Linked DNA regions of Homo sapiens: region 2 is linked to region 1. A link means that fine-mapping ties the variant in region 1 to the expression of a gene that starts in the linked region. Tissue or cell type: subcutaneous fat. Region 1 holds a variant in brackets; the other region holds the start of a gene. All regions are shown on one strand. Distances are between the middles of the regions.

Region 1 (8,110 bases):
TCCATACCTAGTGGGATGAAGATGGTGGTGTATGGATTTTCTCTCTTACAACATTTTTTGTCCCTTATCTATACATCTTTCCCCTAAATATTCAGTAAGATTTGAAGCTGTTAAAAAATCCTAAACTTCTCCAACTGTAGGAAAGATAACTGGAATATTATTTTAAGAGCAAATACATGTACATTCCTAATGTTGCTCGAATGGGAATTATCAAGAAGAAGAAGAAGAAGAAGAAAAAAAAAAAAGGAAAACAAACCCATGAGAGTTTGGGTTGCTATTTCTGACCAAGTTTGAATTGGGAAATACCAGGAGTCCCATAGGAAATCTTATCTCACCGGAAGACGATCATGGTCTCTTGGCCAAAGAATGGGTATGCATTTTTGTGTAAATAAAACTTGCAGACTCAGACAGAGGGCTGGTCTACCTTGCAGCTTAGCATGCCATTTATTATCATTCACAAGGTGGTGTTAGATGCTCAGCTTTAAAAAGAAATGACTTTTCAGCAGTATTTTTACCCTTGAGAGTATATAGGGAGAGCTCTGTGTTGTATGTTAATCAGAGCTTTCACAACTTGCTTTGAATGGTCTTTGAAATGTGTCTGGAAGAAGAGTGAATGAACTATGCCCAAAGTGTGCTCTATTATTTATTACTCAGGAGCCTTTCCATCTGAGACATAGGCTGAAATTAAAGGCACCAAGTACCTGTCTTTACTAACTCAATGTTCTTACAATTTCCGTTCCCTGTGTACTCATGCCACCTGCAAAGGATTCCAGGATTTGATGCTTCATCAGACTCAGTTTTTTTTTTTTTTTTTTTTTTTTTTTTTTTTTTTTTGAGACGGAGTCTCACTCTGTCGCCCAGGCTGAAGTGCTGGAGTGCAGTGGCGCGATCTCAGCTCACTGCAAGCTCCGCCTCCCGGGTTCACGCCATTGTCCTGCCTCAGCCTCCCGAGTAGCTGAGACTACAGGCACCCGCCACCACGCCCGGCTAATTTTTTGTATTTTTAGTAGAGATGGGGTTTCACCGTGTTAGCCAGATGGTCTCGATCTCCTGAGCTCCTGATCTGCCCGTCTCGGCCTCCCAAAGTGCTAGGATTACAGGCGTGAGCCACCACGGCAGGCCAAGCGTCAGTTTTTTAATGAAAATTGTATTTTAATATCTGTATTTTAAAATGCCCCACTCCTTCTGTGGATGTACAGGTCTCAGAGCACACCATGCTTTGCAAACAGTTAGCAAACATGCTTGGGAGCCGTTCCTCCTAAACTCATTTCTCTCCCTTTTCTCAGATGGGAAACTCTTACTTATCCTACAAAACCTAGTTCAAATGTTACTTCCTCATGTACCCTCCCTGACTGTCCCAGGCAGTTAGTTGACTAACTGTGCCCCGTTATCCTTTCCATATACCTTTATCACATGCATTCTCAATGCAGGTAATATTGCCCCCAAGGGGCACCGACTGGTTATTTGGAGAGGGGAATAAAAAGATTATTTTTATGTATAAAATGTAGATATATGTAATACATAAACAGATACACAGTATATAAAATTTCATGGTAGGAAGAGATTAGGAAAAAGATATCTAAAATGGCTCTTCTGGTGGTAATCATGAAAAAAGGTTGGGAAATACCTGCTTTATCATAGTATTTGCCTCTTGTATGGCAGTTGACACTGTGTATTAGACTGTGTATCTCTTACAAGTTAGAAAACCATGGTTTTGAAGCCTCAGCCCCTAGCACGTAGTTGGCGTGTGTATTAGCATTCACTAGTTATTAATATCTACTTGAAGGACATAATGATTGAGATGTTTGCTTCCAAGCATGATTGCTGCACACCAGAAACTCCTGCAAAAATTGTTTTTAATGTCACTTGCTGGGATCTAACTCCAGAAATTCTACCTCAGTGGATCTGGAGTAGGGACTGGTTCTATGTATTTTTAAACACTACCCAGGTGATGGGATTTAGAAATTGTTGCTCCAGCCCGATAATTTTTTTTCTTTTCTTTTGAAAATGTCTCCATTTATAAAAACCAAAACCAAAATCAAAATAGGTGTTTTATTCATGTGTTGGTATTTCCTGTGCTGGTCAGACCACAGAACACCGGTTTCCAATCAGGAAACCATTTTCTAAAGGAACATCAGCAGGCTCAGGCATTTCCAGAAAAGCTCAATGACATGAGCTTTTCTATTTGGTGAGAATTTTAGACCAGAGGATTATGTGAATGTGGCAAGCAGCATGGTCTGGCTTTGTGGGGTGGCTTAACCCCAGGAAGTTCCTGGGCAGGGTTTCTTTTGCTAACCTGCTGGGCAAAATGGACAGATATGAAAGGTGAGGTCGTTTTGTGATTGAATGAATGTCTAGGGACTGGTTAATGGATGCATGAGAGGGCGATTTCTACTGGCAAGACCTGAATTCTTTCTTTAGTCCTGTCCTGGAAAAAAAAATCATTTTAGTGATTTGAATGGCTCTGTGGGAGACACATTTATTAAATCTATGGATTGCACATACCAAAGAGGAGTAACAAATGCATAGAAACGCAATTCTTCAGCAACTACTCAGTAGGTTAGATCAGAGGTTCTCAACCCTTTTAGACCCAACACCCTCTTTATATGAAATATTTTGAAGTGCCACTTTCATTATTGTGAACTGAATGTCTCAGCCACCTAGACATGTAATTTCCAAACTTTAATATAAAGCCCTAAATGTAGTATAAAGGAGAAATAAAGGGCATTAAAAAATAAAATCACACTAGGAAATAATGACACACGATTGGTTCTGCCATAATACTTGTTTTGGAAATGCAAATTAATTATAGCACGACTGATACAGGAAGGAACAAATAAACATTTCCGTTTGCTTATGCATGATTTCTTTCATGAGCAACACGAGGTGAACAGAGGAAACTGCAGCCAGCTGAGTCCACTTGCATACGACTCAAACATCTCCCAGCAACCTCAGTTTTTTGCATGTGGTGAGTCGTACCCATCTGCAGCTGGTGTTACACCCTTTCTTCTCATTCAGACAACTCTTCTTTCCACAGAAAGGTGCAGCCTCTGAGTGACTCTCCACAGTAACTCACAAGCTGTACGTTTCCATGGCCCACAGGTACACAAGCAAACTTTTGGTCTTTTTCAAGGTAAAGTACCATGTGCGTTGTAGTACTTATATATTTCTTAACCATTTAACATCTGTAAAACCATGCAACCATTTTTATTTGTTTCTTTAAATGTGTCAATATTGAAGTTTTTGAATGTTATGCCGTGTGATTTTGCATAGCGAAGTGATTTGTAGGAATGCATATATTATATTATATCAGAACTGATTGTACTTAGATGCTTGCCTCTGATGTAATGAATTAGTTTGAATTTAAGAGAAAACAATATTCAATTGAATATTGTTGACACTTTTTCTTTATATTTGACATTTTGAAATAAAAATTTAACAGGTATATTATTAATGGTAAAAACTGCAATTACTTTTGTACCAACCTAATAGGACCTATGCATAGAATTATCTTAGTGGAGCAGCTCAAATGTGGATCAAAGCAGTTGAGCTACTCTGGTGACTCATATACCAGTATTGCCACTGTTGTAAATGTGTGATTTTTCTAAATGATGAATAACTTCTGAAGTTCTGAGCAAAACAAAGTATACTTTTCCCTTCATTTACACAGCGGTCGCTTTCCTGGAGAATTCATTTACATTAGCCCCATGCAAAAAATACCTATATTAATAAGTAAAATGAAATCAGCTTCTGGTCATTTTTATACATATGTATAGGGATTGGCATGTGGGAATGGGAAGTGAGACAGTTCTCTTATCCACTATGCAATATCCAAGCCCCTGCTCACTAAATGCCACAGTGTCCCCTCCCCCTTATGTGACAACCCAAACTGCCCCCACATATTTCCAGCATGTCCTCTGGTGAACCATTGGCCTGTAGCAATGGACTTCTAAGCTATAATTAGGATCAACATAAATTTCTTAGGTTAAGAAAATAACT[T/G]CAGAAAACAGAATGGAGAGAATGATTAAGCACAAGAAAGGCTAAGAAGAGTTCAGAGACTTTTGTGGACGGCAAATGAAGTATTAGTAAATAATGTTAAGAGACCTAATGTCCTCAGGCTGATTGGAAGAAGTACAATAACTGGATCAGTGCTGTCTAATAGAAATACAATGTGAATACGTACGTAATATTAAATTTTCTAGTAAGCAAATTAAAAAAGATAAGAAATAGGCGAATTGACTTGAATATATTTTATTTAAAACAACATACAGAAAATATTATTGTTTTGAGATGTAATGGATATAAAAAGTGTATTAATGAGATCCTTAATTTTTTTTTTCTTCACTAAGTCTTTCAAAATCCGGGAGTATTTGCTCACAGTATAGCTCACATTTCAAGTGCCCATGGGTTCTGTCTTGCTCCTGAGCAAGTCTTATTTGGTTATCACAGCACTTACAAATGGAATTCTGTGTTTTCTAGGATGCTGCTGAGGGTGGGATGAGAAGTCCCAACTCAAACTGTCTTAAACAATGAAACATTTGTTCTCATACAGAAATTAAAGTTAGGGTACGCTCTAGGACTGGTTGGTTCAGCGATTCGTGGCATCATCAAGGATGCAGGTGCCTTCCATGTTTCCATCCTGATTTTCTCAATGCGGGTCCTGCTCCTCAGGGTTGTAAGGTGGTGGCCAGTGGCAAGATGGCGGCTCATGCTTCTTTGTTTGTGTCCAACAGCAGGGATGAAGACATTTTTCCCTAAAATATGAAATATCCATTCTTTCTTTCAGACATATTGGGCAAACATGCCATGTCTCGACTGACTTACACAAATCATCTGGGTCAGAATATTGGATCCCTTCTTGTGATTGATGCAAGAATGGCTTTGGCTGGACATTTTCTTTTCATTTACTCACCATGAGGCACACTATTTCTTGTTGTCTTGTACTTGCTTTCTTTATTCAGTTACTCTACGTTTCTGTCCCTGGAAGTGTTTGAGTTTGTGGCTGCCTCTTAAACACAGGCTCCAATCATTGTTGACGGAGCCACACATGCAACATTGCATTAAATTTTGATGTGAGAGGATTTAAGAGAATGAGAGGAGGTTTAAAGGAGAGAGCTAAAGTGAAAAGGGAATTGACATCATGTCGTATGAGGAAAGTCGAAGGGAATGGCCTTGTAAACCTATGAGAAGTGGAGGGCTTGTGGGTGGGATAGAATACCCTCATCTTATCGATGAGGGTATGTCTACTTGTAGCAGTTCTGTGCTCCCATCAAATTAGCTGCTTCAGCCAGGCGTGGTGGCTCATGCCTGTAATCCCAGCACTTTGGGAGGCTCAGGCGGGCAAATCACTTGAGGTCAGGAGTTCGAGACCAGTCTGGCCAACATGGTGAAACCCCTCTCTACTAAAAATATCAAAATTAGCTGGGAGTGGTGGTGAGCGCCTGTAATTCCAGTTACTCAGGAGGCTGAGGCAGGAGAATTGCTGAACTTGGGAGGCGGAGGTTGCAGTGAGCTGACATGGCGCCACTACATTCCAGCCTGGGCGACAGAGCAAGACTCTGTCTCAGAAAAACAAACAAACAAACAAACAAAAAAACAGAAAAGAAAAAGATTAGCAAATTAGCCGTCTCTAATTTGTTCTGGATCTGGAAGCCAGATAATGAAACTTGTTAGAATAACAAATGGGCTGTGAATGAGAGGCTGAGGTGCTGTCCTATGAATATAGTGTTTATATATTAATTCATGAACTGGGTTACCCCTTGCCCACCTCTCTCAACTCACTCCTTTTTGAGATATATATTTGAGGCCTTAAGCTTAGTTCTGGGTAGGCTTCTAACACATCACCTTGTTTCTGTCTCAAGACCTTTTCATTTTCTCTTCCCTCTGTCTAGAGTGCTGAATAACAAGAAAGGTCATCAAAGACATGATGAAATATTTTTAGATATTTTTAAGACAAGCCCCAAAAGTGTCTCTCTTACTTACATCCTATTGGCCACATGGTTCTAATCTAACTCCAAGGGAATCTGGGAAATGTAGTTTTTTGTGTACCCCAAAAGAAGAAACACATAGCACTACCTCTGCGATGTGATCCTTGGCGGCCAGTCTCACAAGGGTTCATTTTTGACCAACGCCAATAGAGTTCAAGAGAATCTCTTCCTTGAAGGAATAGTTCTCTATCATCTCCAAGTTTTAGCGCCACCCACACAACACTATAGCCACGCACATGAAGGGAATATGTTCCGAAAAGGAGCTAAATCAACTAGCTAGTGCATCTTCACCCTTTGATGTGGGAGACTTGTGTTCATTTCCCTAGGGCACCCTTAACATCTTGCACCACTACGTGTAACCCCTACGGAATCCAGACATTAATAGTTCTTTGGGCAATTCACAATCAAATGAATAGCCAAGTTATAGTAAATAGGGAGAAAGTAGAAATCCTTCTAAGTCAAAGGGAGTGTAGGCCATTACTATGTTATAGAAGGAATTTCAGGACAGAGGGATGAACTGTTCCTCAACCCCAGAGCAGTTATAATAGTTAACACTGGCCATGTGCTCACTGTGAGCCATGCCTTGTGTGAACATATTCCACAAATTACTTTACAATTCCTACAACAAACATCTGAGGGAGTATTCTTATTCCCATTCTACAGATGAATACATTGAGACCTCCGGAGGTCAAGTGACATTCTGAAGTCATGTGATAGTGAATGGTGGTGTGTAATTCCAACCCAGCTGTCTGAGTCCAGAGCCAATATGTTACACTCTAATGACTCTGGACCCTGTGAAGTTAAATTCAGAAACCTGAGATTGTGCTGCTCCTCAAACTAGGATTGATGTCATCCTATGAAATAAAGAGCAAGTTTGGGACTCCTGCCTAATGACCCTGTGGAACTGATCAGTGTCACATGATCCTAATCATGTACAGCAGAGACACACATGTACATATATAATCTCAATGCTCTAAAGTCAGGTGTGCCATTGGGCAGTACACAATCAATTGTCAAACACATGGCACTAGCAATTGAGTGTTAAGCTGTCTCTACAAGGTATAAATAAGAATGTGGAAAGAAAGAAGTTTGCTAGATACAGGATGCCAGCTGTAATTTCAAGAAAATGTTGATTGCATGTTTTAGGAACTATTCCACAAAGCCTTGCTCCAGTACAGATTTTCCTTGTAAGGTAGCATGAAAAAAAGAGAGAGAAATTTTTATTTTTATTTGGTGTTTATTGTTTCTTCGTCAGCAGCTGTGCCGATGTGGTGTTGATTATGCAGAGAAGAATTATTTTGATTATTGACAGTTGGCATTCTTCTCATAATTTGGAGTTCTTCATCTCAGAATTGTTTCCTCACCTCCTCTCCTGTCTGCACATGAATAAAAATTTAAACGCACTTGCCAGGATTCTTACCCAAGGCAGCTGTTAGGAGGACTGTAGTTGAAAGTTCAGATGCAATTTGATGTAAACCTCTCCCTGCCGTTTGTTCCTTTCTGTGAGCCTGACTTCAGAGCAATGGAGCTTGCATGGTTCATCACCAGCATCTGAAAGGCCTCCCCACAAAGAAAAAGCTATGCTCTGTGTTATGGCTTCATCCCCCTGCAACCTTATCTGCTGGCTGTGTGCCCCTCTCTCCCAGCAGCGTTCATTCGGAAATGTACTTCAACGGGTTACCCGTCAGGGTTGGCTCACACGAATACTCTGTGCTACTTTCTGTATTTTTTTCTTAGAAAAAAGACTGCTTAGAAAAACAAAAACAAAAGTGATCTATAGATCCCCTTTCAGGTGATTTTCTTTTGCCTTTTTTTCTTTTCTTTTTCTTTTAAGACAGGGTCTCACTCTGTTGCCCAGGCTGGAGTGTAGTGGCAAAATCACGGCTCACTGCAGCCTTGAACTCCTGGGTTCAAGCGATCCTTCAGGTGATTTTTTAAGTGGTATATGTAACAGAGTTCTTTGGCTCCTTGTCTTGCATCTCCTTGATCTAATTCTCTTTCAACTTCAGGTGAGACACACCTCAAATGACAGAATCCCACATCAAGCTTTCTCTCCTGGGGAGTTAACCCCCCTGGGGCTAACCCTTCACAAAGGCGGGATGGAAGCCAGTGGAAAAGTACCC
Region 2 (8,110 bases), 45 kb before region 1:
AATCTATGTTCTGTCTCTGTGGCCTCTCAGAGACTTCTGGCACCAGTCTCTCCAGTCCATGAGCTGTGAACTCCCTTTTTAGCACATTTGGCCCTGACACCTGCCATCTTACCTTTGCTTCTGGACACCCAGATTGAATCTTCCCTAAAAACCAACTTTGCATTGTTTGCCCAACATTTGAACCTCCTTCCTATATTTGTGTAACTGCTCAGTGTATGACTCATTTTCGGAGGAGTCAGTGGCCATCTTTCTCTATTAAGGCTCAAGAAGATAGATTCCTGCTTTCCCAGACTTCCTTGCAACGAGTCCTTAGATGGGTGTGCTAGGCTCAAGCTCAACCAGTGACTATGAATCTGGAGCCAGTGGCCTGAAAAGTCAGGGGTAGTGAAGAATCTTTGCTGTTAGTGTGGTGGTAGCAGTAGTAATGTCAAAGGCCTACTGGCAGCAGGGCTGTGGGCCCATGGCAGCGGGACCATGCTCAAGTGGCACTAATGTCTGCATTGGGCTGGCTGGTTCTGATTTTGGCTGTCTCTTAGACTCTCTTGCTCCTGGGCACTGTTTAAGCTGGTCCTCCAGCCTTCTTGGCTATTGAGTGAGCTAGATCCTATCTTTAAAATAGATTTTCTTTCAATTAAAATCATCCAGAGTTGGTTTCCATGCTTGCAGTTAAGGACCCCATCTGGAAGAAGTATTTTATGAGTAGAGTCTTAACCAGAACGGGTCATAGGGTTTTGCCTCAGAATACTGCAATTAAGAGGGCACCATATTTTGAAGCTTGAACTCCCTCCCCCATGCTCTTCCTTATTCCTGTTGCAGTGCTGAGCTGGCCTCTTCTTCTGAGACCAGTACCTCAGCAGCAGGTGAACAAAGACAGAGATGGAGACTTAGGATCAAAGGCACTGAGTGCCTGACCAGGGGTCCCTCTGTGAGGCAGGAGAACAAGCCCCTCCTCTGTTTCTTTGAATTTCCTTGTTTAGAAACTGAATTTCTGGGCCAGGTGTGGTGGCTTACGCCTGTAACCCCCGCACTTTGGGAAGCTGAGGCGGGTGGATCACCTGAGGTCAGGTGTTTGAGACCAGCCTGGCCAACATGGCAAAACCCCATCTTTAATAAAAATAGAAAAAGCAGCCTGGCATGGTGGTGGGCGCCTGTAATCCCAGCTACTCAGGAGGCTGAGACAGGAGAATCACTTGAACTTGGGAGGTGGAGGTTGCAGTGAGCTGAGGAGCTGAGATCGCACCGTTGCATTCCAGCCTAGGTGACAAGAGCAAAACTCCATCAAAAAAAAAAAGGAAAGAGAAAGAAAGAAAGAAAAAAGAAAGAAGAAAGGAAGGAAGGAAGAAAGAAAGAAAGAAAGAAAGAAAGAAAGAAAGAAAGAAAGAAAGAAAGAAAGAAAGAAATTGAGTTTCTGGCTGCTTGTTGTGGGTTGAATCATGTCCCCACAAAACACATGCTGAAGTCACATCCCCAGTATCTAAGAATCTGACCTTCTTTGGAAATAGGGTTGGTGCAGATGTAATTAGTTAGGATGAGGTCACACTGGAGTAGGGTGGGCTCTTAATCCAGTAGGGCTGGTGTCCTAGTAAGAAGAAGGAGGATGACACAAAGACAGACACACAGGGAGAATGCCGTGTGACCCTAAGAGCAGAGGTTGGAGTGGTGCCGCTACAAGCCTGGGATTGCCAGCCACCACCAGAGCTAGAAAGATATAAGGAGGGATTTTAGCTTCAGGAACGATGAGGAGCATTTACGTTGTTTTAAGCCACCCAATTTGCAGTAAAACTCAAGGAAACTAAAACATCTTTTGAATCCAAATTCCTGGCCATAGCTCTGCTTAACAGGACATCCTTGGAAGCAGACAGAATGGGGTTTGAGTCTCAGCTCTGTTACCACCTGCTGCATGGGTTCGGAGGTAAGCTGTTTACCTCCTTGACATCTCCATTTCCTCATCTGCAAATCAAAGATGAACATAGCTTCTTCAAAGACTGTTAAACATTTAGAGGAGTGCACGGCACATAAACGGCAACTATTAATATGAAAGAACTGCTTCCTGTCAGTATCTGGCCCTGATGGTCGCTTCCTGTTGAGGGAAACAAGTCTAAAACCTGCTCTTAGAATACAGATCAGTGCCACGGATTATTCAGTTACAATGAATTTTCTTTTTTTAAGAAAAGAGATAATTCCGCGTTTGCTATGTTTTTCCTTCCTATTTTTAACATCTATCTGTACTTTTAGATTATGGTGCAGGTAGCCCTCTTTCCCAGGAAAAGTGAGTGCTTCACAAGGGGTGCCCACTTTTGCCCAAGGACAGAGCCTCCTCCAGCCAGCTAGGGTAGAATGGGAGAGGGTGCAGGTGCTGCCCAGGCCAGTAATCTAGCTGCCGATCTGGGGGACACTCAAAGCAGCTGGTGGCTTTAATATCCGCTCTTCACAGCTTCATCTCCACTCGAGATGGCTGTGCTGATTGTAATGCAATAAAGCTGGAGTTTTGCGGGGAGAATGCTGTCCCTGGTTATTTCATTTAGAAGCCATCGTAATACTCTTCAGGGAGAGATAAGAGTGATTTAAGTAATTCAGGGCTCCAGGAGTCCAGGACATTTATGGTTCCTTCTAACCCTGGGGAATTTTATGATTTGAGGCCTGTGGCCACAGAGCAAAGCCAGCCTGCTGTTGATATGGGGAACAGATTTAACAAGTGTGAGCACCTGTCGGTGCCAGGTGATTTATACACAACTATCCATGTTTACCTTGCAACAATCTTTAGGGAACATCGGACCAGGTACCCTAGAAGTGGACCCTGTATAAAGATTCCTATGGATGGGCGCGGTGGCTCATGCCTGTAATCCCAGCACTTTGGGAGGCTGAGACAGGCAGATCACCTGAAGTCAGGAGTTTGAGACCAGCCTGGCCAACCTGGTGAAACCCTGTCTCTACTAAAAATACAAAAAGTAGCTGGGCATTGTGGCAGGTGTCTGTAATCCCAGCTACTCGGGAGGCTGAGACAGGAGAATTGCTTGAACCTGGGAGGTGGAGGTTGCAGTGAGCCGAAATCATGCCACTGCATTCCAGCCTGGGCAACAGAGACAGATGCTGTCTCAAAAAAACAAAAAACAAAACAAAACAAAAAAATCCTGTGCATGTGACTTATTAAGGAGGAACTCCCAGGGAAAACTGGCAGAGGAGAGGGGGAGAGGGGTGAAAAGAGAGAGAAGCCCAAGAAGAGTGTGATTTCAGGCCGAGACCTGTGGAGGGGAGCTTGAGTTTGCTCCTGCAGGGGAACCCTGGAGCGTACAGTGCACCTGTCCTGCATGCCAGAAAGCTGGAGTTCCATACCCCTGCACCCGACAGTCACTGGCTCTGGGCCTTGAGGCTCAGCATAAATAAACTCCCAGGCACCTGTGGTTCCCATCTGTGCCTGTAAAAGGCTTTAGCAACCCAAGGGCAGTTGGATGCAAAAATACCCAAGGCCAGCAGATGAACATTGAGCAGGAATAAACAGAATACAAGGACATCTGGGTGGAAGTCACCAGTGCCTGCACATGGAACTATGAAGATCACCATTTTTCAGATTAAGAAACTGAGGCTCACATTGTGAAATAACACTCTCTGGAAAGGTGAGTGGCCGGGTCTGGATTTGAACCTATGATTCCAGAGTGTTTGTTTTTTCCACTGAGATTGCTGGATTGCTGGTATCTGGGGACCAGTGGCTGAAAGCATTGACTTCTCTGGTTTCTTTTTCCTGTTAAAAATATTTATGTTAGTTTTTATGCCTAAAAAAGCAATAAATAGCAATGAGAACAAGTGATTTATGGCTCCAGCATAATATGGACAAATCTCACTAGAGTTCTGATGATTGAAAGAAGCCAGACACAAAAGAGTGAGATTCTCTTTATACCAAGTACATACACACACACACACAGAGAAAAAATTCTTCTCTGGTGATAAAAATCAGGCTCTTGGTGACTCTTGGGGGTGGGCATTAGGGACCGAAAGGGAGCCCCAAATGTACCTTTTTGGAGCTGGTCATGTGTAGGGTCTTGATTTGGGTGTTGGGTTCACGAATAGTTTCAGTTTGTTAAAATTGCTCAAGCTAGGTACTTAAGTGATGTGTGCTCTTTATATGCATGTCATGCCTCAATACAAATTTAAATTGAAGAAGAAAAGTGTAAAGGTGGAAAGGGAGAAAATAAAATTGGGCATAATCCCACTCACGCAGAAATCACTGTCATTAGCTCGGCATGATGGTGGGTGCCTGTAATCCCAGCTACTTGGGAGGCTGAGGCGGGAGAATCACTTAAACCTGGGAGGTGGAGGTTGCAGTGAGCTGAGATCCTGCCATTGCACTCACTTCAGCCTGGGTGACAGAGCGAGACTCTGCCCACCCCCACAAAAAAGAAATCACTATGATTAATGTTGTCTTGATGTATATCTTGTAAAATGTTCCCATGTGTGCACACACAAACAAATATGCCCACAAACACATGTGAGGGAGTTTCTGGCTGTGTTGGAGGTGATTATCCTAACCTTGAGCGTGGACCATCTTGTCTTCTGTATTGACAGGAATAGAAAGTACACCAGGGTCAGTGGTCTGGGAAGAGGTGGAAAGGGATAGGTCCAAGAGAACCCAGATGTCCCGAGGATCTGGAAGGTGGAGCTCCCAGTGATGAGTGTTTTCATTTAAAGCATGTGTCCCTATTTGCATCCCCACCACTGCCGATGTGGATTGTGGCCACATTCACAATTCGTTTACTCTTTTATTCAACAGACATTTGCTGAGCACAGACGAAGTGCAGATACTGAACAATGCACAGGGTCTGGGGAGACAGATAGTGAGAAATAAGGCTTAGTTTCTGAACTCAAGAAGCTTTGAGTCAAACAGTGCAGCTCTGAGCAAGATACTGCCCTCATAGGAACCTCGTTTTCCTTATCAGAAAAATGGGATTAATAAGGCCTGCCAGGCTAGGTAATTTTGAAATCAAGTGGGGTGACATTCATAAATAACTATAACAAAGCATAGACTCCTTTACTCTACACTGCGTTGCACACGTGCTCTAGGAACCTGGTTTGAGCCCAGGTTGTGTTCACACTGGGATCCAGGCACATCTAGCCGATGAATAAGCTGTCTCTATCAGAAATACGTTTGCATGCATGTTTAGGAGCTCCCAGGAAAGAACTCACCCTAAGTGAAGAGGAAGTCACGACAAGCAGGCTTAACTTGGTAAGACCACCTTCTCTGAGTGAAAGAACCATTCTGATTAGAGAATGAGGTCTATATCTAGGAAACTTTCTGAAATGTGAAAACTCAAAGAGTAGACTTCCCAAGGTGCCCAAACAGGACTCCCGTCTTCTAATTCCAGACGGACCTTGCAGGTGGCAATCGTGCATGGGAGGACATGGTGGTGGCAGGTGAGTGGGGTTGTATCCTCTAGTTCAGTGGTTCCTGTAGGAAGTGTCTGTGATGTTCAGAACTCAGTAGTTCTGGAAGGAATGGCATTGTCCTGTGGACATGTGAGTGCCAAGGGAAGAGGGTTGGAGGAGGTGTAGGGGAAGGTCATGGAGATGCCACATGGAAAATGGGTGGACTGGCTCACTGGCAGCCTGAGGCTCCCCTGGGAACTCACAAATGCTTGGGGGCATGAAACCTGGCTGGGGAATCAGGATTCCCTACTTTGGGTGGATTTTACAGGAGTCTGCTTTCTCTTTCTTTTAGTCAGGATGGGGGCATACCTTGACTTATATACAATAGTCCTTTTCTTCTCTCAGGGTTCCTGACTGTGGCTGTGGGTGGCCTGGACTTGGCAGTGGAGGGAGATTCATTCAGAGAAGAGCGATGGAGCTGCTATGTTCACCCACTTTCCCAATTATAGCCCCTCTCCTCCAGGGCATTTGCTGGGGGTGGGGGGTGGCGGAATAAAGTCCCCTGACTTGGAGTAGTGCTTCTCAAAGTTTAATGGGAATGAGAAAATCCTAGGAATCGGGTTAAATGCAGATTCTGACTCAGTAGGTCTGGGATAGGGCCTAGGATTCTGCATTTCTGACAAGCTCCCAAGTGGTGCTGGTGCTGCTCTTCCCTGACCACACTTGGAAAAGAAAGACACGAGAAGTGATAATCAGAATCCTGGGAATCTGGATTCTTAAGTACCAGGATTTTTAAGTATCATAACTTGCTGTTATGATCAGGCAAGTGTGGAAAACCCTGGAATAGATCATCTTGAAAAATAAGCTGAGATTTGAAAGGGTGTTTTTAATTCAAGTTTTTATGAAGTATCTACTTGGTGCTGGTTAGATCTGGGAGGGGCTTGGGACACTGTCCAGGTATATTGAGTGCTATGTGACTTTTCATTAAATAAAATTTGTGGGTTTTGGTGGGAGAAAATGCAGGGAGAAGATAGATCCTTGTTTGTAAGTCATTTCCAGATGTGAAGAGAGATGGGGAACCCACACAACTAACTGATTTTGCAGGAGGTGACCATGGTGGTAATTTCAGACACCTCCAAAGAAAGAATGAAGTCATCAGACTTGATGAGGGGAGTAAAACTGGAAGGATCTAGGGTGGCCTGACAGTATCAAAACTTTCAAAAGGCCATCCCAGTTCTGACTTTAACCATTGCAAATGCAGAATTTGTATTGCTTAGTTCAGTGGTTTCCTAAGTCTGCTTGTATAGCCCTGGGGTTCCATGAGACTCTGGTGAGGACCACTGTGTGTTAAGTGTGGAGTGGCCAAGGGCAGGATGAGAGAATGGCATGGAAAAGGAGCCCCGTCCTGCTTCATGGAGAGTAGCTTTGCTGGCCTTTGATCAAGGTTCTGTGTGAGCAAAGGCTACTGTTTCCTAAAGCAAGGTTTGAAAAGCCACTTGCCTAGAGCATGCCCTCCTTTGGGGTTCCTTCTGTCCAGATAGTGCTTTCTCTCTTCTTTCCACCGTAAACTCCTATTCCCCCTTTATAGTCCAGCTCAGGTGTGTCTGTCCTAATGCAGCTTTCCTTAAACACCATGCACACCAGCAGTCCTTTTTCTGCATTTCCACTGTCCCTCACTCATACTTCATGTGCTGCTATTAACTTACTGTATTGAACATGTACATCTCTGCATGCCTGTTTCCCTTATTACACCAGGAGCTCCTTTAGGCAGACCTGACGTCACCCATGTCTGTTCACGGGCATAAAGTGTGCCTGGCTTAAAGCAATTATGGTTAAATGCTTGCAGAATGGGATGCCACCTGGTTAATGGTTCTCTGATTAAGAAGCACACCTTCTTTCCGTTAGAGCCTTAGATGGAGCCAGCGTTTTTATTAATTCAAGATTTCATAAACGGTTAATAATCTCTCTTTGCCTCTCCTGGAAATTGCCAGGTTTGGCAAGAATAGGTAAACATGTCCGATAATATCCCCTTTCCTGTCCTCCTGCCCTCACTGACGGTGTTGTGCTTTTAATTTTTTTTCTTGGCGATACTAGACATTTACTTTCCTCCACTTCCCCTGAGATATGACCGAATACCCAATGCAAAGGTTCAGAGTTGGTGAACAACTTAAAGCTCATATTGAATACAAGATCTGGCTGCTGGCACCATTTGGGGCATTGCAGTCTGATGATTCTTTTCCCAGAGATGTGGGACTTGCTGATACAGGCCTCCCATTTATGCTCCCCAAAGGGTGCAGCTGAGATGGCTGGAGCCTGTTCTGAGAAGCCGGGCCTTCTGCTCTCCTGGCATTGATCAGGAGGCTCCAGATATTTCCTTGAGGCTATTCAAGAAGCAGAAAGTTGTGCAGGAGCAGATACAGAAGGAGGCCTGTGAGAGTCAGTGACCTGCCTTGATTCATTTTGCAATGTGAATTGAGAACTTCAAGCTTTGAAGCTGCTAATTAATTGGTCAGGATCCTGTCTTGAGTATTTTTAGGAGATTTAGCTAACTCTGTCTTCTTCAAAGGCACTGATTACCTTGGTGGACCTTTTTTGCAACCAATCTTGTGATCCAGGGAGCAGTGTTCCTAAAGTAGGAAAATAGGATGGGGATAAACATTGATCATTTAACCCTCAGACACTGGGCACCCACCATGTGCTAGATTTTTCTGCCAGGTACTGGGATAAGAATAAGGCAATGCAGAAGCTTAAT

What was found. PIP is the estimated chance that this variant, and not a neighbour inherited with it, causes the effect.
Region 2: it holds the start of DYNLRB2-AS1, and the variant in region 1 is fine-mapped to the expression of DYNLRB2-AS1 in subcutaneous fat (GTEx, PIP 0.95).

Annotation. Positions count from the first base shown.
Region 1 is chr16:80,513,492-80,521,601 of GRCh38, reverse strand. The region is part of intron 2 of DYNLRB2-AS1 (DYNLRB2 antisense RNA 1); the gene reads left to right. Among named protein-coding and RNA genes, the nearest start is that of DYNLRB2, 23 kb to the left of the region's middle. The variant T/G (reference allele first, on the strand shown) is at 4,000.
Region 2 is chr16:80,558,533-80,566,642 of GRCh38, reverse strand. It overlaps DYNLRB2-AS1 (DYNLRB2 antisense RNA 1), which reads left to right and starts at 3,508. Exons shown (of 6, transcript NR_120307.1): 1 at 3,508-3,614.